Linked DNA regions of Homo sapiens: all the other regions are reported to be linked to region 2. Evidence: microRNA targets listed by miRTarBase, many of them from high-throughput screens and not tested one by one. Region 2 holds a microRNA gene; each other region holds the end of a gene's coding sequence.
What was found. Region 2 holds the annotated microRNA hsa-miR-1273h-5p (CUGGGAGGUCAAGGCUGCAGU, at 2,929-2,949, shown strand). A microRNA usually pairs through its seed, bases 2 to 8, with sites in the 3' UTR of a target mRNA and lowers its output. Matches are read on the target gene's strand: a 7mer-m8 pairs with bases 2 to 8, a 7mer-A1 pairs with bases 2 to 7 and ends in A, and an 8mer does both.

Region 1: the mRNA of TLCD2 is a reported target of hsa-miR-1273h-5p. Seed matches in the 3' UTR shown: 7mer-m8 at 2,263-2,269, 7mer-m8 at 2,488-2,494, 7mer-m8 at 2,514-2,520, 8mer at 2,527-2,534, 8mer at 2,663-2,670 and 7mer-A1 at 5,205-5,211.
Region 3: the mRNA of TOMM20 is a reported target of hsa-miR-1273h-5p. Seed matches in the 3' UTR shown: 7mer-m8 at 3,543-3,549.

Annotation. Positions count from the first base shown.
Region 1 is chr17:1,701,996-1,709,191 of GRCh38, reverse strand. It overlaps TLCD2 (TLC domain containing 2), which reads left to right. Exons shown (of 4, transcript NM_001164407.2): 4 at 970-6,376. The coding sequence ends at 1,422. Among named protein-coding and RNA genes, the nearest start is that of TLCD2, 4.8 kb to the left of the region's middle.
Region 2 is chr16:24,200,220-24,207,415 of GRCh38, forward strand. It overlaps MIR1273H (microRNA 1273h), which reads left to right and starts at 2,897; the gene lies at 2,897-3,012. All of the region lies in intron 16 of PRKCB (protein kinase C beta), which reads left to right.
Region 3 is chr1:235,105,899-235,113,078 of GRCh38, reverse strand. It overlaps TOMM20 (translocase of outer mitochondrial membrane 20), which reads left to right. Exons shown (of 5, transcript NM_014765.3): 5 at 971-3,738. The coding sequence ends at 1,015. Among named protein-coding and RNA genes, the nearest start is that of SNORA14B, 18 kb to the left of the region's middle.

The DNA.
Region 1 (7,196 bases), not on the chromosome of region 2:
GTCTCGAACTTCTGACCTCAGGTGATCCGCCCACTTCAGCCTTCCAAAGTGCTGGGATTACAAGCATGAGCCACCGCCCCCGGCCCTCTCTTCATTTTGCTGTCCTATAATTTCCCACAGTCTCTGCCCCCAGCTGGTGCTTGGCTCCCAGTCTTAGGCTGAGTTAGGGGGAGGAGGTGGCTGCTGGCCACAGCTGGGGAGTCCAGATACCCACCAGGCCAGGGCACCTACCATGCCAGGGCACTCACCATACAAGGGCACCCACCATGCCAGGGCACCCACCATGTGAGCCTAAGGAGTTTGGGTGCCCCCACAGGTGTCCAGCTGATCACAGAAATGTGGAATATGGAGCTTTTCTGAGAAGGGGGTGTCCTGGTATAGGGTGTGGGTATGGGGCATGAAAGCCCTAGGCCAGGCACGGTGGCTTATGCCTATAATCCCAGCACACTGGGAGGCCGAGGCGGGTGGATCACGAGGTCAGGAGATCGAGACCATCCTGACTAACAGTGAAACCCCGTCTCTACTAAAAATACAAAAATTACCTGGGTGTGGTGGCGCGCACCGGTAGTCCCAGCTACTCTGGAAGCTGAGGCAGGAGAATTGCTTGAACCCAGGAGGCAGAGGTTGCAGTGAGCCAAGATCACACCACTGCACTCCAGCCTGGTGGCAGAGTGAGAGTCTGTCTCGAAAAAAAAAAAAAAAAAAAAAAAAAGCAAGCAAGCCCAGGAATGGGAGGTTAAGGGGGTATTAGGGGGTGAGACAGCCCCTCCCTGGGCCAAGCCTGGTTCCATCTATGGAAGGGTTGTTTCAAGGCTGCTCAGGGCCCCAGGATAAAGGTAAAAGCATAAAGGTCAGGTGTTTGGGGAGCCCCACAGACTGCGTGGAAGCCTCTTTCTTCAGGCCTGGGTTATTGGGACATGATGGCTGGCAGGTCATGGGGTTCCTCTGACCTGTGACCCTGGCTCCCAGGTGGTGAGCTGCCTCAGCACCGCTGTTCTGTCTGGCCACTACGTGGGCTTCTCCATGGTGTCTCTGCTCCTGGAACTGAACTCTGCCTGCTTGCACCTGCGGAAGCTGCTGTTGCTTTCTCGCCAGGCCCCATCCCTGGCCTTCAGCGTGACCAGCTGGGCCTCCTTGGCCACCTTGGCCCTCTTCCGCCTGGTCCCGCTGGGGTGGATGAGTCTGTGGCTGTTCCGGCAGCACCACCAGGTTCCTCTTGCTCTGGTCACCCTGGGTGGAATTGGGCTGGTCACTGTGGGCATCATGAGCATCATATTGGGGATCCGTATTCTGGTCAATGATGTCCTACAGTCTCGACCCCATCCACCCAGCCCTGGCCATGAGAAAACCAGGGGGACCAGGACACGTCGTGACAATGGACCTGTCACCAGCAACAGTTCGACTCTCAGCCTGAAAGACTAGAGAGAAGCCATGGGCCCCTCGCTGGGGGAGGTGGGGCCAGGACAAGGAGATGAGGGTCTTCCATGCACAGTCCCCCATCAGGGTGAGGGCCAGACTTGCTCATCAGAATCTCAGTTTCTCTTCCAGCTAACTCACATCCCTTCCCCTTCCTCGGATCTAAGAAGAAATGCTGATGTTGGATGGGTGGGAACCTGGGTTTCTGTTCACTGAAATCCGTCATCAGATGAGCATCCTTTCCAGCAAATAAACTCAAGAGGTACAGCTAGAGCTATCAGTAAAGGGTGGCAGGAGGCATGCAGCTGGAAGAAACTGCCAGTGGAGACAGAAGCTCTTTGCTTTAACCCAGGGACAGATGGGGGAAGGTGAAGTCCCACTAGGATCAGAGAGATCTGGTATGGGGCGGGTGGGGACAGAGAGAAAAGAGATCTCACCTATAACCAAATTCTGGCAGTGGGAGGAAGGTAGAGGAGGTGCTATCTGTAGCAGCAGAGATGGACGTGATAGTTGCCAAGAGACAGAACCTGGGCCACAGCAATTGCTGCTGATGTTTCTGGTTCTCAAAGCCACACTCCTGTTTTTCTTTTTCTTTTTCTTTTTTTTTATGAGACGGAATCTTACTCTGTCACCCAGGCTGGAGTGTAGTGGCACGATTTCGGCTCACTGCAACCTCAGCCTCCTGGGTTCAAGTGATTGTCCTGCCTTAGCCTCCCGAGTAGCTGTGACTTCAGGCATGCACCACCAAGCCCAGCTAATTTTTGTATTTTTTGGTGGAGAGGAGGTTTCACCATGTTGCCCAGGCTGGTCTCGAACTCCTGACCTCAAGTAATCCACCTGCCTCGGCCTCCCAGAGTGCTGGGATTACAGACGTGAGAACAGGCGCACACTCCTGTTTTTCTCCTTAACCCTGGTCCTGCTGTGTCTAGCCTTTTATTTTTATTTTTATTTTTAGTATCTTTTGACTTTTCTTTTTTCTTTTCTTTTTTTTTTTTTTTTTTTGAGACAAGTTCTTGCTCTGTTGCCCAGGATGGAGTGCAGTGGCTTGATCTTGGCTCACTGCAATCTCTGCCTCCCAGGCTCAAGCAATTCTCCTGCCTCCCACCTCAGCCTCCCAAGTAGCTGGGACTACAGGTGCACGCCACTGCACCAGGCTAATTTTTGTATTTTTTTGTAGAGACCAGGTTTTGCCATGTTGCCCAGGCTGGTCTCAAACTTTTGCACTCAAGTGATCCACCCACCTCAGCCTCCCAAAGTGCTGGGATTACAGACGTGAGCCACCGTACCCGACCCCTTTTGACTTTTCAAAGACAATTCGGATTCTTAGAGGAATGAACACAGGGCTGGTTTGTCTTCTTAGGACGGCACTGAAGTCTAGAATTACAGAAGGAAAGGTGCCCAGTACAGAGTTTTCCCAGGCCCAGGCTTTCATGGAAGAACAAGGGCAGAGGTAGACTGTGTGAGAGAAGGCTGCAGGAGGATAAAGGAATAGCTGGCCCTCTGGCTGGGCGCAGCAGCTCACGCCTGTAATCCCAGCACTTTGGGAGGCCGAGGCGGGAGGATCACCTGAGGTCAGGAGTTCAAGACCAGCCTGGTCAACATGGTGAAACCCTGTCTCTACTAAAAATACAAAATTAGCCGGGCATGGTGGTGCATGCCTGTAATCCCAGCTACTCAGGAGGCTGAGGCAGGAGAATCGCTTGAACCCAGGAGGCAGAGGTTGCAGTGAGCCGAGGTCGTGCCACTGCACTCCAGCCTGGGCAAACAGAGTGAGACTCTTGTCTCTAAAGAAAAAAAAAAAAGGAAGAGCTGGGACTTTTCTGAGATACATTCATAAAGTCTTCTTCCTCCCTGCTGCTTCTGCTGCGTTTTTTTCTGTTGAACAAGACCCCTTCCTTCCCAGAACATCGAGGTGACGGGAAGTGCCCAGCAGATTAAGTCTGCTGTTCCACTAAACAATGGACTGAGAGAGGCAACCCTTAGCCATCCACAGAAAAGCTACATGAGCAAAAGCAAGAGACAGGAAGATTGTCTTCAAAAAAAAACAAAACAAAACAAAAACCTTGCTAAGAAGCGGAGGTACAGAAAGATACGAAGAATGACAGAGACAGACATACATAGATTGAGTGATAGATAGAAAGAGAGAAGGATTATTCACATAGAGGTGACAGAGGCAAAGAAGGATGGAGGGCAAAAGAGACAGGCCCTAGCAGAAATATGGAGAAAGGCTGTCATAGATCCTGAGAGACACCAAAGTCACAGAACTGATAAAAGGGTTATAAACAAAAAGGACCAGAAAAATAGAAATGAAGGCCGACAAGAAGAGACCCCAAGGCTGAAAGGCACAGAGAGTCTAGACAGTGAAATAGAGTGAGTGACAAGGAGAAACACCCAGGCTCAGGAGTGATGGAGGAAATACTGGCAGATAGAGAGATCAGAAGAGCAAGAGGAGAGGTGGGAACAGAGAAGAGCGGGGACGAGTCCGGGGAGCTGAGAAGCAGAAGGCGGAGGAGGCAGTCAGTGGGAAGATTCACTGACAGAAGAGACCAGGAGATATGGGGACTTGGAGGCAGGCAGAAAGACAAAGGACAAACAGCTGCAGCGCAAACCCTAAAGACAGGCTGACAGTAACCGGTCGGCAGAGACTGGTAGGAAGATAAGGACAAGTCAGAATCAGGGGTGTCAACTGAGATGCAAATATAGGCAAAGGAGCTGACAAAGAGAATCACAGAGAGAAAAAAAAGGAGGAGAGCACAGAACAATTTAAATATCCAGGCTGGGCATGGTGGGTCACGCCTGTAATCCCAGCATTTTGGGAGGCCGAGGCAGGCGGATCACGAGGTCAGGAGATGACCATCCTGGCTAACATGGTGAAACACCATCTCTACTAAAAATACAAAAAATTGGCCGGGCGTGGTGGCAGGCGCCCGTAATCCCGGCTACTGAGGAGGCTGAGGCAGGAGAATCGTTTGAACCTGGGAGGCCGAGGTTGTTATAATGAGCCGAGATAGTGCCACTGCAGTCCAGCAGGGGTGACAGAGTGAGACTCCGTCTCAAAAAAAAAAATTGAATATCCAAAGAACAAAGAAGAGGCAGGAACCCAGAAATGAAAAGAGGAGGAAAAATACAGGTGTGAAAAAAAAATGAGAGGGATTGTGAGAAGTCTCCATCATAGAGTCATAAAAACAGGCGCAAAGGATGAAAATACATCGAGACTGAGGAAAACACAGTTGGAAGGAGCTAAACACAAGCAGAAAATAAGAGCAGAGCATTTAAATGTAATTAGATAAAAACCCAAGAGGCAAAGGTATAGATAGTGAGCTAGAGAAACAATGCAGAATTTTGTCAGAGTCTGTACTTCTAGAAGTCATGTTTGCTGGCTGGGCATGGTGGCTCACGCCTGTAATCCCAGCACTTTGGGAGGCCGAGGTAGGAGGAGTGGTTGAGCTCAGGAGTTCAAGACCAGTCTGGGCAACATATTGAGACCTCCTCTCTACAAAAAAAAAAAATTTTCTTTTTTCTTTCTTTTCTTCTTTTTTTTTTTTTTTTTTTGAGACAGTTTCATTCTTGCTGCCCAGGCTGGAATGCAGTGGCACAATCTTGGCTCACTGCAACCTCCACCTCCTGGACTCAAGTGATTCTCCTGCCTCAGCCTCCCTAGTAGCTGGGATTACAGGTACCCACCACCACACTCGGCTAATTTTTGTGTTTTTAGTAGAGACAGGATTTCACCATATTGGCCAGGCTGGTCTCAAACTCCTGACCTCAGGTGATCCGCCCACCTTGGGCTCCCAAACTACTGGGATTATATGCGTGAGCCAACACACCCGGCCAAAAAAAAATTTTTAATTAAAAAAAAAAGTCATATCTGCAAAACTCAATTTGCCATCTTAACTGAATGCCTTGATTAACAAAAATGTTGTCTGCCTTGAGTTTTTAAAGAAAAAGAAATATGACAAACTCATGTGAGGAATCTATTCCTTAAATATCTGTTGAGGTTGATATGAATTGATTCTAAGTCATACACCTTTTCTTTGGCCACTGGTATACATTCATGATGGTTTGAGTGAGTGTCCCTTTTGGTAATACTTGATAGTGTCTATGAGGCCGGGCGTGGTGGCTCACGCCTGTAATCCCAGCACTTTGGGGGACCGAGGCAGGTGAAATCCCATCTCTACTAAAAATAAAAAAAATTAGCCGGGCGTGGTGGCGGGCGCCTGTAGTCCCAGCTACTCAGGAGGCTGAGGCAGGAGAATGGCATGAACCCGGGAGGCGGAGCTTGCAGTGAGCCAAGATCGTGCCACTGCACTCCAGCCTGGGTGACAGAGCAAGACTCCGTCTTAAAAAATAAATAAATAAATAAATAGACAGATAGATAGATAGATAGTGTCTATGAAGGCTGCCCAAGAACTTGACCATTAGGGAAACATGGCTGTTTCTGTGGATTAACTAGTCAAGCCCATACAGGAAGAGTGAGGTCAGCTCCCAGGTGGGGCAGGATGTAGTGGACGCTTGGAAGAATTTGGGACCACACACGAATTGCTACCATGGTGAGCCAGTGAAACTTGAGGAAGGCAGGACTGGATTGTGATTACAACTGAGTAAGTAGGCAGAGAATTGGAGTGTGGGCAACATAAAGATGATGTGAATCAAAGAAGAATGGTCAATTAAGACCCTAAAAAAAGGACGTTCAAAAATGCAGAGGTTAAAAAAAAAAAAAGCAGAGATTGCCAGATGCTCCATTTGGTAGGAGTCTGCTTAGCACAGTGGTGCTTCGCCAGACTTTACCGTGGCCCAGGGAAATGGTCCTCAAGACGGACTCCATGTCTACCAAGCTACTTGCTAATGATTTCTTTGTCCTCCAGGACAGGGAAGGGGCTTTTCTGGATGGGATACATTGATATTTTATGGCCTTGAAACACTATCCTGATTATAAATTAATAAATTGCTATGCAAATAATTGCATTAGTTGCATCAATCTCTTATGAGCGTGGTTACTTTGAGTTACTTTTTGGCTCCAATGGTGTCCTGATTTACAATTCGATGCTAGATTGTGGAGGCTTTGCCTTGGGAAAGTTTCCACCCTGACGTGTCCTGATACCCTCTATAATCAAAAAGCAACTCCTGGCTGGGTGCAGTGGCTCATGCCTGTAATCCCAGCACTTTGGGAGGCTGAGGCTGGTGGATCACTTGAGGTCAGGGGTTCGAGACCAGCCTGGCCAACATGGTGAACCCTCATCTCTACTAAAAGTATAAAAATTAGCTGGGCGTGGTGGCAGGCGCCTGTAACGCCAGCTACTCGGGAGGCTGAGGCAGGAGAATCATTTGAACTCAGGAGGTGGAGGTTACAGGGAGCTGAGATTGCACCACTGCACTCTAGCCTGGGAGACAGAGCAAGACTGTTTCGAAAAAATAAAAAAAGCAAATCCAGTGTCAGGCGAGTTGGTTGATTCCTGTAATTCCAGCACTTTGGGAGGCTGAGGCTTGGGCCCAGGCGTTCAACACTGGCCTGGGTAACATAGCAAAACCTCATCTTTTTTTTTTTTTTTTTTTTTCTGAGACAGAGTCTCACTCTGCCACCCAGGCTGGAGTGCAGTGGCTCAATCTCAGCTCGCTGCAGCCTCCACCTCCTGGGTTCATACGTTTCTCATGCCTCAGCCTCCCGAGTAGCTGGGACTACAGGCGTGCACCACCACACCTGGCTAATTTTTGTATTTTTAGTAGAGACGGGGTTTCACCATGTTGGCCAGGCTGGTCTCGAACTCCTGACCTCAAGTGAT
Region 2 (7,196 bases):
TTCCCTGCTCATTTCTGGTTGTTCTTTTGGGGTATCCACTGTGTGGAGTTTGCAGAGATCTTAATAAAAATATCAACCTACATTTATATACTGACAAACAAATAGCCAAGAGCCATTTAGGACACACAGCTTGGAGTCTGTTTATCTCTCTCCACCTATCTACACACCCATGGAGAACCCATTTAAACTTCAGATCAAACCAGGCTCCCTTTAGATGGTTGGAATTGTCAGGTTCCTGAGCCAGGTGAAGTTCCTAAATCAGTTTCTGTCTTAGTCCATGTTGTGTTGCTATGACTGAATACCACAGACTAGATAATTTATAAAGAAAAGAAATTTATTTCTTACAGTTCTGGAGGCTGGGAAGTCCAAGGGTGAGGGGCTTGCATCTGGTGAGAGACTTCTTGCTGTGTCATCCCATGGCAGAAGGTGAAGGGCAAGAGAGAGTATGCGTGCATGTGTGTGCATATATATGCATATGCATACATGTGTGTGCACATGCAGGGGAAAGATACGGAGCCAAACTCATCCCTTTTATTAGGATCCCACTACCAAGATAATGTTGTTAAGTTCTCATGAGGTGCCACCTCTCAACACTGTTGCATTGGAGATTCAGTTTCTAACACATGAACTTTGGCGGGGCAAGTCAACCATAGAACCTACCAGATACATGACTTTGAGTCATGTACTATTATATTATTATTTATTATTATTATTGTTATTTTGATACTGGTCCATGGCCCAGGGATTGGGGATCCCTGCCCTAAATCGTGAGGAAGATTGAGGCCCATGGGTGCCACTGGTTGGTAGCCGTCAGCTTCTTACCACCTACCGGCACCTCCATAGTCATCTTGACCTCCTTGCCCAGCTTCCATCTCTGTCTTAGCAAATATGTTTTCCCTCCCCCAACTCATGTGAGACTTACCCTCACTCCTGCTCTGGACTCCAGCCTCTTGATCCTTCATGCTTATCTCCCCTGTTTAGTCTGTCTACAGCTTCTCTCTGTATCAACAAAACTCCTATGGTTTCAAATAGGAATCTGATTTAAACTGACTTTTAAGCAAAAAATAATGATAGTTAGTATTCAGATGTAGATGGATCATCTACATCTGGTCCCAAACAATGCCAGCAGGGAAACATTTATCTATATCCCTTAGGATTACTTTCCCCACTGTGTTGACTTCATTCTTCATTCTCAGAAGGCTTTCTTGGGCACATAGCAACTCCCAATTTATGTCCCATTATCTCTGCAACTTCTACCAAAGAAAAGGGCTTCCTTTTTATAAAATCCCAGCAGCCTAGGACTCAATCTTTTTGGAAGATTATTGGGTCATATGCCCATCTCTAAGGGAATTGCTCACTGCACCAGGGGGATGGAATGTGCTGATTGACCGGGCCTGGGTCACCAGCCCCTCTTAGCCAGAGAGCTGGATCTAATCCAGACATTTTGAAAAAAGAGAAGGAATGTCCTATCTAAATCAGACATTTTGAAAGAAGAGAAGGAATATCTCCTTTAAGAAAAAAAAGCCACTGTCATGGCCGGGTGTGGTGGCTCACGCCTATAATCCCAGCACTTTGGGAGGCTGAGGCGGGTGGATCATGAGGTCAGGAGATCGAGACCATCTTGGCTAACACGGTGAAACCCCATCTCCACTAAAAAATACAAAAAATTAGCTGGGCGCGGTGGCGGGCACCTGTAGTCCCAGCTACTCGGGAGGCTGAGGCAGGAGAATGGCGTGAACCCAGGAGGCGGAGCTTGCAGTGAGCTGAGATAGCGCCACTGCAGTCCAGCCTGGGCAAAAGAGCGAGACTCCGTCTCAAAAAAAAAAAAAAAGAAAAAAAGAAAAATAAAGCCACTGTCACTAGAAGAAAAGACAATGCCTGCTGGCTGGGCAAAAACAGCAGCTGTCCTTTCTGACTCTATCCTGGCCTTCTCCTTTGTGCATAAACCTGCTATGTCTTTTTCATGTTAAAAATCCCCTACCTCAAACCTGGGAATCCTCCTTACTACTACTCTTACTACTGCTATGATTACTACCCTACCTTACTTTGCATACAAACACACTTTTGAAAGAGTTGCCAGTTCCTGCTATTTCCACTTGATGACAATTTATTGTTTCCTCAGTTTGGTGCAATCTGGCTTCTGCTCCCGCCATCCTATTGATATTTTTCTCATTGAGTCATCAATGACCTGAAAACTGCCTCTTCTCATAAGCTTGTCTCATCTTTCTTGACCTCACCATATTATTAGGTGCTCTAATCCTTTCTCCTTTAAAAAAATGTGAAAAAATAAAATATTCAAGCAGCATCAGAAGCTACAAAGTGAAATTAAGATTCCCCTCACCCATGGCTCCTAGCTAGGCTTCCTGGTTCTCCTTCCCAGAGACACCCATTGCAACCAGGTTCTTGTGTGACCTTCTAGAGAAGATGTGTTCAGGCCCAGAAATAGTCTACATCACACACAAGGATGTTAGCATGCTGTGTACAATTTCTGTATCTTGCATTATTCCCCTCTGTCTTGGAGATTGTTTCTTATCTGCTTATCTAACTCTACATCACCCTTTGAATAACTTCCTAGTTTCCTATATAAGTGAGTTTATCTGTAGGAAAAGTTCAGAGTGCCTTCTTTCTTTTTAAGCCCCTCTTCTCCTTCATTTTTATGACATTGTGTGTCTGTCTTAGTCTGTTTTGTGCTGCTATAAGAATACCTGAAACTGGGGCCTGGTGCAGTGGCTCATGCCTGTAATTCCAGCACTTTGGGAGGTTAACATGGGCAGATCACTTGAGCTTGAGCCCAGGAGTTTGAGACCAGCTTGGGGAACATGGCAAAATCTGTCTTTACACACACAAAAATTACAAAAATCAACCAGGTGGGGTGGCACATGCCTGTAGTCCCAGCTACTTGGGTGACTAAGGCAGGATTGCTTGAGCCTGGGAGGTCAAGGCTGCAGTGTCGTGGTCACAGCTTGCTGCAGACTCGACCTCCCAGGCTTAAGCAATCCTCCTGCTCGAGTGACAGAGTGAGACCCTGTCTCAAAAAAAAAAAAGTGGATAACTTACAATGAAAAGAAATTTATTTGGCTCATGGTTCTGGAGGGTGGGAAGTACAAGATCAGGGGCTGTATCTGGGGAGGACCTTCTTGCTGCATAGTAACCTGATAGAAGGCATCACATGGCAAGAGAACACATGAGGGAGGGTAACTTACTTTTTAAATAAATTCACTCCCACAATAATAACATCAATCCAGTCACCTCCAAAAGTTCCCACCTCTCAACACTGTTGCATTGGGGATTAAGTGTCCAGCACAAGAACTTTGGGAGAACACATTCAAACCATATCACCACATTTGCTGATGTTCTTCCTACCTTCACAGCCACTCCCAATAGAAATTCCAACTCCACAAAGACTTCCAGTGACAGTTGAATTTGGAGGGTTGAGACCAGCTCATGACCCAGAAAGGAAAACAGAAAGCTTACTTTTTGTTTTGTTACAAGTGCAGTCTCTTAAAAATAACCACAAAATGCCCCCCCAAATGGCATATGGAAAACAGCACAGAGATGGTGTGTTAATCTACCTGAAATGTCTTTCTAAGGAAGTGAGGCTTGGATGGGAACGGAAATGCATCCCTTTTTCTTCCCAGGGTACACGTCTTTTTCTCACTTCCTCTAACTGGGAGCCCCAGGGCCTGGCTTTGTCTTGTAGCTTCCTGCCGTGATGCACCAGGCTAAGTGGGAAGGTTTCTGTTCTATGTCTAAAGTAGCACTGGCAGGTCCTCATTCTGCTTGTAATTGGGATGGGAATATGGGTAGGAATTTAGGGTTTGGCAGAGCGTACAGGACCTCTTTCAAGCCAGAGCACAGCCCTGTCAGACTTACTCACTGGACATGAATGGGTCAGTCAGCCCTCAGCAGTAACCACCAGCTACCATGTTAAGTATTTGATGTGAATTTTATCAAGTCATTCTCGCCACACCCTACAAGAAACTTGAGCTTAGGGGACTTAGCTAACTTGCTTGAAGGTTGTATAGCTGGGAATTGTTGGAGCCAGGATTGGTACCCAGGTTAGCTTAACTTTTAAGTCCGTGCCACACAATCAGATACATAGTATGAGGCAATGGGATGTAATGGAAAGCCCATGGGCTTTGGAATTGAACAGATGGGCTCTGGATCTTGGCTCTCCTACTTGACCCTATATGACCCTGAACAAACTGTTAACTCTTAAAATTATCTGTTAAGTAGAGATAATCCTTTTCCTGCCTATCTCACAGCCTTGTGGGAATCAAAGCTATAAAAAGATAGGCAAATAGAAGGGATAATTACTATTTGAGGGTGAGTTTACTTGAAGCCAACAATGTGGGTTTAGGATGAATGGTGAAGAATAGATAAGAAAAAAAATGATATTCTGTTGACATGGGAAGATGTTTAGAGTGTATTTCATCTAGTTTCTTTTAAAAAGCAAGCAAAAGAACAGAGTCATGATTCCACCTTTGTCTAAAAACTAAAAAACATCCATTCATCTATTCATCCAGCCATCTAGGATACAAACCAAGATGTTAACATAATACAGAGATTTGGGGTGGCGGGATTAAGAAGGATTCTTTTGTGTGTTTTAAAATTTTTTATGGCCAGGCACAGAGGCTCATGCCTGTAATCCTAGCACTTTGGGAGGCCAAGGCGTGCAGATCACGAGGTCAGGAGTTCGAGACCAGCCTAGCCAACATAGTGAAACCCCGTCTCTACTAAAAATACAAAAATTAGCTGGGCATGGTGATGGGTGCCTGTAGTCCCAGCTACTTGGGAGGCTGAGGCAGGAGAATCGCTTGAACCCGGGAGGTGGAGGTTGCAGTGAGCCGAGATCGTGCCACTGCACACCAGCCTGGGCGACAAAGTGAGACTTCATCTCAAAAAAAAAATTATTATTATAATTCCTTTTTTTTTTTTTTTTTTTTTTAGAGACAGGGTCTTACTCTGTTACCCAGGCTGAAGTGAAGTGGAACAGTCATAGCTCACTGCAGCCTCCAGTTCCTGGGCTCAAGGGATTCCCCGTGCCTCAGCCTCTTGAACAGCTGGGACCACAGGCATGCACCACCATGCCTGGCCAATTTTTAAAAAATTCTTTGTAGAGACAGGTTCTCTCTATGTTGCCCAGGCTGGTCTCAAACTCCTGATCTCAAGTGATCCTTCCACCTGGGCCTCCCAAAGTGCTGGTATTATAGGCATGGCACCACCATGCCTGGCATCTTGGTGCTTTTTAATAGCTTGTTTGTTTCTGCGATAAATGTAGGAGACTGATAGAAGAGTCTGGATCTCTTGTCAAATCTAGGATCAAATCGTGGTCAGATACTTAAACTAAACCCATTTTCTCATTGCACAGCAAGGACTTCATAGAGCTTTTGGGGGGATTAAAGGAGGTAAAGCTTGCAAAACACTTAACACAGTATCTGGCTCATAGTTAGTGCTTAACATACACTATTATTTGTCCATTTGATTTTTTTTCATCCCTGGGTTCTAGAAACGCAGTGGTGAATAAAACAGATGTGATTTTGCTCTCATGTGGCTTACAGTCTAGATGAGAACATAGACAATCAACAGAGAATGAACATGTATTAATAATTATAGACTGAGATATACCAGATTTTATTTCTGTTAAAGAAATGAACAGGATATCTTGACAGAGAATAACAGGAGGGAAGAATGAGAATCCTCTTTATTTGAAGGTGGTCTGGAACAGCTTCTCTGACAGGGTGCCATTTAAACTGAGATCTGGAGGAAATCAAAACACTGGATGTTATTTTTTAATGAAAATTAAGAAAAGCAAGAGCAAAACAAAACAGACTTAGTATCAAACACAAAAGACCCCTCTCCTACTGACTTCCTCCCTAAATAAACATAAGAGATAAAAGATCCCTGATTGTAAGGGACCTTCATTATTAGCAGAAAAAGGAGACTTAAATCTCTCTTTTTTTCTGCCAAAACCCAGACCACAAATGACTTTTTAAAATGATCAAATATGTATGCAGCTTTGAGCATCTGATTCTCCCTGGAGTGGGTCCCTCCTGTATTCGGCTGTGGGAAACTGGAAGGCATAGGAACGACCCTGCATTTCACTGGATGTGCACATGTGAAAAAGAAAGATGCGCTTGTCTTTTTGCCTAGGCTATGTAGCTTGGATGTCTTTTCATCGTGACCTTCTGGTCTTGTTAACCTGAAGGTGTCCTGGTGTCTTGATGGAGGCTGGGCAGGTAGCTCCCCTGAGCCACTAGCCTCATGTTATCAAAGTCGGCTAGGCAACAGACAGCAGGGAGGAGCCTTATCCTCTCCTCCACCATCTTACCTTGTCCATGCCCTCTTTTTACCTCCATTTCTTCTCCAGGCTCTTTCCTTTCCTCCTCCAAAGAAGCAATGTCTCTCTTGCAGGTCCCACTCAAGTGAGATGTCACTCCCTCCAGACAGAGTTCCTGGCCCTTCTTGGGTTCCTTTCCTCTGTGCTCAATGGCAGCACCTGTCCCATGGTCCCATGCAGTGGCCTGTGTGTGCATCTGTGTCCTCTGCTAGATCTTAAGCTCAACGGGGACAAGAACAGGTACCCTCTTATGTATCGCCAGAGTCCAGCATGCTGCTCGGCAGAGGATCTACAACAGCCAAATATTAGCCTTCCTTATTATCCCTTAGCACCAAAATACACGTCAAAGCAGCCACTTGTTTTAGAGTTTTTTTGCTTCATTTTGTTTTGAGACAGGGTCTCACTCTGTCACCCAGGCTGAAGTGCAGAGGCACGATCATAGCTTGCTGCAGTCTAAACCTCCTGGGCTCAAGTAATCCTCCAACTTCAGCCTTCCAAGTAGCTGGGACTACAGGCATGTGGCGTCATGCCCTGAGAAGTTTTAAATTTTTGTAGAGACAGGGTCTTGCTATGTTGCCCAGGCTGGTCTCACACTCCTAGCCTCAAGCGATCCTCCTGCTGCCTTAGAGTGTTTTACTAAGATGAAGCATGTTAAAGTAGCATCAGGCTAACCTTAACAATTTACCCAAATACTCCCATTCTCTTTATTTCTATTTTTCAATTTCTTCCATGATAATTGCTGTCTCATTTAAAATAGCTTTCACAGCTTCTTTTCTTATTACAAAATAATAATAACAATACCTGATTGTTATGTAAATTTTTAAAATATAATCAAGCATAAAGGGGAAAAGGAAAA
Region 3 (7,180 bases), not on the chromosome of region 2:
AAAACAGTGAATGATGATAGGAAGTATTTACAGAACTTTATAGTTAGTAACTGACTGGTTAATTTTTCAAACTGATTTTTACTCAACTGAATTAGAAAAGGACTGGAAAGAAAGTAAAGATCCCAACGACTTGAGGGAACAAGTTGGACAACCAAGGACTTTGTCTAAATTGTTTTTATTTAGACTAATGTGGTTCTAGTTCTAGAGGATTCATACTGGAATCATCGGTTTAATATTACGCTATTTGAAAGGCAGCATAGTATAGTACTTTTGGAAAATTGGCCTGAGGGTGATGTCTTTTGGAATATTTGTGAATTCACTATGAAGCCTAATTCCTTAAAAATGACCTCCTTCACTCAATTATCAGTGTTCTTGGTTTGCCTGGGAGTGAAAAGAGATCTTAAAATCTTTTTGGTTTTAGTTACATAATTGACTGATGTAATATTATGTAATGATGGCTGTACACAGTGTCTCATGCCCTATAATCCTAGCACTCATTTGAGCTCAGGAGTTCAAGGCCAGCCTGGGCAACATGGTAAAACCCTGTCTGCACCAAAAATAAAAAAAAAATTAGCCGGGCATGGTGGCATGAGTCTGTGGTTCCAGCTACTCAGGAGGCTGAGGTGGGGGAGGATCGCTTGAGCCCAGGAGTCAGAGGTTGCAGTGAGCTGAGATTGTGCTACTGCACTCCAGCCTGGGTTACAGAGACCCCATCTGAATTAAAAACATATATAATGTAATGATCTGCCTCCTTTGTTAACTTGACTTTTGAAATGGGATTGTCAGTAGTATGATCATTGTTTTCTTGGATGCCGACTGTGTGTAAAGTGTTACATTTTGAATTAAATGTCAGAATGGGTGAACTTTACTAAGATTCAATTCTTTGAATACAAAGAGCATTTTATTTTGAAGTTAGAATCCTAATTAAATGCTTATGACACTTTAAAAAATTATTTTTTTTTTCTTTCAGAGAATTGTAAGTGCTCAGAGCTTGGCTGAAGATGATGTGGAATGAGAAACAAATGTCAACATAATAAAATCTCAGTTAAAAATATTTTAAAAATTCTTGGTAGTTGAGCAGCTCTGGGGGAATAAGGGCAAATATGCTTGTTATGAACTACACTGAAATCTACCAAAGTTAATGTTTACTTTGTGTAGATCCATTTGTCTATTTTATTTATTTTTCCCAGTGAAAAGTGTATTTTGATAGAGAACTTTTCATTCTATAAATACACTATGAGTTACTAAAATATCATGGATTTTGTTTATTCCTGAAACATAGTTACATAGTTAAACTGTACATATGACATGGCTTATGTTAAAAATACCCAGTGCTCAGTTTTGAAAGATAGGCAAAAAAAAAAAAGTATAGGAGAAACTGAAGAATGTACACTTTTTTAGAGGGCACATTTTGCTGTAAATCTGGAAATTTGATAGACTTGACTGTGTTTGTGAAAACTGAGCATTAAAGGTTTTGATTGATCCTTTCTTTCCATTTAATCTCTGAGACGTAAATATGTGAGGTGTGCTGCTGTGCTGGGTTAACAGCTTCCTTCCCTTTCTGTGTAGCAGTCTTGAAATGTTCTGTTTAAATCAGTAGGCTTAATGTGTTCTGGGTATTTATCTCCTTGTATTTTAAATATATGTAGTTGCAAATAGCACCAGGAATTAGATTTCTGTACACCCCTAATCTAGCCTTGTGAGCTTCGCTAGTTAATGTGTGCTCACTTTCCCTCCATTTGTTACGTGAGAGAATGCGTCTGCTGATCACTGAAGTGTCCCTTTTAGCTTCTGATTCATTGGGTTCTGTTGGGCATCTTTAAATCCACCTTAACCTGAGGAATGTATGTGGGCAACCAGGCCCTGCATTTTTTTATATTCTGAATTTTGCATGCTTGCCTGACTTAGTATTTCTGAATTGATGTTTTTTTTAATGGTATAACTATCTTGATTTTCACTGAAATTATATGGTTCTGTCACTACTCTGTAAATTAATCCGAAACTTTTAAGGTAACTGGGATGATCTGCTTGTAAAAATGCTTGTTGCCTTTTGCTTTATCTTCAGTGTACCTCCTTAATCCTGCTTCAACTTGATTATCTTGTGAAACGATGAGAGTAAGTTGCAACCTTGTGACTGAAAACTTGAAAAGAGTGGAGCAGGTGGGACCTCTTATTCTCAAATAGTGACATATTCTCCGTAGTCACAGTTTCAGAACTGAGTAAGGATCCTTGGTACTTGGTGGCATCTGTTGAACTGAGGAGCATTTCTCATTGTAAAGATTGCCTTTGTTCTGTCTAAAAGTCTGGAGAAATCCCAAAGACTTTTCCTATGTACTAGGCATTTTATTTTGATTGACTTACAAACTCTTCTTAATCATTATCAATCTCGGTTTTTTTGTGGTGCAGTGGAAGGAGAAATAGGTCTAGTTTCTGCCTCTGATTAGCCGCACAGCCTTGAACAAATCACATTTCATCTTTGAACTTACCTCTACTGTTAGACTAGGCGACTCACATTTGAGGACTTTTCTCGGGTATCTTGAGGGTTTGTGATCCTGAACCCTTAAACAGTGCTTTTTTGTTACACAGGAGGGCTTTTTTGGGGGGATGACCAGTACAGACATGCCAGTTAGTTTTACTAGTGGGATCCCAAATCCAAAGCAGTGTAGTGGTGATTGGTCAGTGACTAACCAGGCAGCTAAGAAGTCTTAGGCAGCAGCCCAGACATGTATAGAGGGGCAGTTAGAGGGAGAACAGGGGTGGGAAAGGGAGCAAGGGGCAGATAGCTCAGCAAGGAAAGAATGGGCTCAGAAAAAGGAGGGCTGGCTGGAGGAGTGAGGGGCAGCTTAAGTTTGGGGAGGGTAGAAACGCCGTTTCCTTGGGAACTGGAGTGCAGTATGAGCTGGGTGTCACTTGGCTCTGAACATACTGGCTTTGCTGTAATGCTTGAAAAGGCGTTGGTATCTTCATTTTACAGTTCATTAACCCAAGTACGTTTTCTTATTTAAATGACAACTTTGGTGCTTTAAAATGAGGTACCACTTTTTAAAGCTAGCTGTGTCGAGTTAAAGAAAAAATCAGCAGTTTTTTCTCCCAGAAATGTAATTGCCAAACACTATTCATCCCCATCTTAAGTTTTACAAGGTGATGTAATCAGCTTGTTGTAGTGATGCTGGCCAAATGGTGCTCAGCAGGTGAGAACAAAAAAACCCCAGATCTCAGTGAACTAATACACAGCTTGAGCGTTTCCATGTGCTAATGTTGCACACTTACTAAAAAACTTTGGAAATGGAAAATAATGTATTAGTGCAACAGTTGATGTGCTTCTTTGGGCAAAGATATAGTTTTGTTCCACAATTTGTACTTAAAAGCGAAAGAACATTGAAAACATAGACTTACTGGCTGTAGCAATGCTGGCCTGTTAACTGATAACTAGAACTTAGGTTCACGTTTATGTAAAGTGTGTAAAACCTAGTAGAGCTTGCATAGTCGGCACTCAGTAAATGTTTGGTTCCTTTTGCCCCTTGGTAAGTTTATTTTACCATCCTCCCACCTGCCATTCTGACTTTATTAAATCAACATGTGGACCAGAGTGTTAATGAGATGTTATTGCAGAAGAGATTGAGAAAATTGGTATATCATGCAGATAACATACAAAATCTTTTTGTAACGTAAAAAATGCAGTTTTATTATTGCTTGTGCCTCAACTGTTTAAGTGAATATTAAAGGGCTTGGAGAAAACTTTGGCTTGGCGTATGTTTGGAGAAGTGAACTCTGCTGAATTTATTGAGTCTAAAGCTGTGGGTTTTTTGTTGTTAACGTCTTTGAGGATGTCTAGGGCCGCAGGCTTCCCTGCCAGAAGAATGCACATTTGCTTCAGATTCCAGGTGAAGAAAATCCCTGTGGTAGTGTCAGCGCCTGAGGGCTTCCAGGTGGTGGTGGGCCCAGCGTCAGGAGATAGCAGTCACCTGGGAGGCCCGTTACAACAGGTTCGTGAGAGGAGCCCAGTGGTGGTGGTGCTGACGTGCGAAACATGAAGGCTTGTTAGAGAAACCAGCTGTGTTAAGGTGACAGAATGTGTACGTTAGCACTGTAAAAAGCAGCTAATTGGTAGCAGAACGTGCTAGCTGAGAATACGTTGTATTCTACATCACTGATAATGATCTGAAGTGTACAAGTCATCAGTATCAGATCTATGAGAGTTTTTGTAGTTTTGCTCTAACATAAATTTCTCTTTGCCACCTCCAAAGTTATTATATTAATAGTAAAAGTAATGCTTTGGAGAGGGTGGAAGGGGGTATGCCCTAGCCTCCACAGCTCCTGCCACAAACTGCCCAGATAAGCAGGACCTGAGTGTGTTGAAAGGCTGAGTTGAAGAGCAGATTGACACAGGAGGGCTGGAATGAACGTTGGCTAGAGCAGGTGTGTCCAATCTTTTGGTTTCCCTGGGCCACACTGGAAGAAGAAAATTGTCTTCAGCCACACATAAAATACACTAACACTAACAATAGCTGATGAGCTAAAAAAAAAAAAAAAAAAAAATCATGGTGTTTTAAGAAAGCTTATAAGTTTGTGTTGGGCCACATTCAAAGCTGCCCTGGACCACAGGTTGGACAAGCTTGGGCTAGAGCCAGAGGCCATGGGAGACAGGATGCAGGGCAGGGAGTAGGGCCTCTGCCAGAACTCCTTAAGCCAGGTGCCATGCTCACCTGTAATCCCAGCACTTTGGGTAGGCCAAGGGGTGGGAGGATCACCTGAGGCTAGGAGTTCCAGAACTTGTCTGTTTTGTTAGTCTCTATTGCCCAGGCTGGAATGCCTCTCAGGTTCAAGCAATTCTCATGCCTCAGCCTCCCAAGCAGCTGTGGTTACAGGCATGCGCCACCACACCCAGCTAATTTTTGCATTTTTCATAGAGACGGGTTTCGCCATGTTGGCCAGGCTGGTCTCGAACTCCTGGCCTCAAGTAATCCACCCTCCTCGGCCTTTTAAAGTGTTGGGATTACAGGCGTGAGCCACCCTGCCTGGTCAGAAGACCCCGTCTCAACAAAAATGTGAAAAAATTGGCTGGATGTAGAGCACACCTGTAGTCATAGCTACTCACGAGGCTGAGGTGGGAGGATCGCTTGGGCCCAGGACTTCGAGGCTGCAGTGAGGCGTGATGGCACTGCTATACTCTAGCCTGGGCAACAGAGTGAGACCCTGTCTCATAAAGAGAAAAGACAAATTTGCTCCTCTTTTAGCTCAGCCAAGAGATGCTGTTTTATCTAGAAGCTTCCCCTGGTGTCTCCATTCTTCCTGGGTGATTTCTCCCTCTCTGCTTTCAGCAGCCACCTGTAGCTGATGACTTCCTCCTGTCCCACTTCTTTCCAGCCTCACTGCCACTATTTTAGGTAACCCAGAGTTATTGCAGGTCCCATCGCCAATCCACACAGCTGCCTGAGGAATTGATCTGAAACATCATGTCCCTCGTATGGCATCCGAGGCCCTCATAATCTGGCCTGATTAACTCCGATCTCACCTCATGTGCCATCCTTCCCCCAAATGTGCCTTCCTCTTCAGCTGTCCTCCTGCGGGGCTCCCTATGCCTTGGGCAACTGTGCTTACCACCCCAGATAGCTGGATGAACAAAATAGTCCCTGATTTTACCATCTCATTGAGAGAGTCTTAATGTAGCCGGCCCAGGTCCAGGGTTCTGTGCCCCATGTTGATGATGCTGGTATCTCCATTCCTGGGATATTCCTATGGCATTTACCAATGTCTACTGTCACTTCCTGGTGACTTGTCCATCTTTCCTACCAGACAGCTCCCAAGGCATGTCTTACTGACCATCGGATTCCCCAGCATAGAGCATAGTTAAATGCCTAGTAAATAATGAATGGAAATCCAAATGAACAGAAATGGGATTTTTCACCACAAAATTTAAAAGATTCTTTGGGATTACACATGCCAGGTAAGTGGAAGGAAAGAAACATTGTGAGGAGTAATCTATTTTAAAACCCACTTAACTCACTTGGTTATTAGAAATAGTGTAAGTTTGAGAACAGGAGAAGGGAAGGGATCTATTTAGCTTTCTGCATATTTCTTGATAGCCTCCTAACCTAACAACAAAATGCCAAAAAAAAGCAAACCTGGCAGCCATTGAAGAGCATTCATAAAGGTTTTTGTTTTGTTTTTTTGAGACAGTCTGCTCTGTCGCCCAGGCTGGAGTGCAGTGGCACAACCTTGGCTCACTGCAGCCTCCTCCTCCCGGGTTCAAGCGATTCTCCTGCTTCAGCCTCCCGAGTAGCTGGGATTACAGGTGTGCACCTCCATGCCTGGTTAATTTTTTGTGTGTTTTTAGTAGAGATGAGGTTTCACCATGTTGGACAGGCTGCTTTCAAACTAAAAAAAAAAAAAAAAAAAATTCTGAGATGGCCTTTTAGAAAAAACCCAAAAACATAATTAAGAGTCATTTTGAACCACCCTTTCATGGAAACTTGCCAAATACAGGGATGACTTAGGTGTCATTATAGTTCAACATTTAAGGGTGCTCTGTGGCCCCGTCTATACCCTGCTTTTCCCAAACCTTTTTAAAAGACAGGATTGTTTTGTTTCTTAGCTTTCCCTTGAGCTAGATGAACTACAGATCAGCAGTCCAGGTAGGCAGCTTATTCAGAACTTTGACGACTTGGAATTTAGTCTACTTTCACAGGTGACAGATTTTTAAAATTCACTTATATTCAGAAAAAGAGGCCAGGCACAGTGGCTCATGCCTTTAATCCCAGCACTTTGGGAGGCTAAAGTGGGCGGATCACCTGACGTCAGGAGTTTGAGACCAGCCTGTCCAACATGGTGAAACCCCGTCTCTACTAATAATACAAAAATTAGCTGGGCGTGGTGGTACATGCCTGTAATCCCAGTTACTTGGGAAGCTGAGGCAGGAGAACTGTTTGAACCTGGGAGTTGGAGGTTGCAGTGAGCCATTGCACTCCAGCCTGGGCGACAAGAGTGAAACTCTCTCCAACAAAACAATACAAAAAAAAAAAAAAAAAAAAAAAGGATGCTGGCTAAAATAACCATGTCTTTACCAAATGTTGGATGGCAGAAGACAAGACTTTCCAAATCTTTAGCTACTCAGATACTGTTAGACATTCTTAGCTCAATTTAAACACTGTCACTAAATAAAAAAATTTAGGAGTGACTA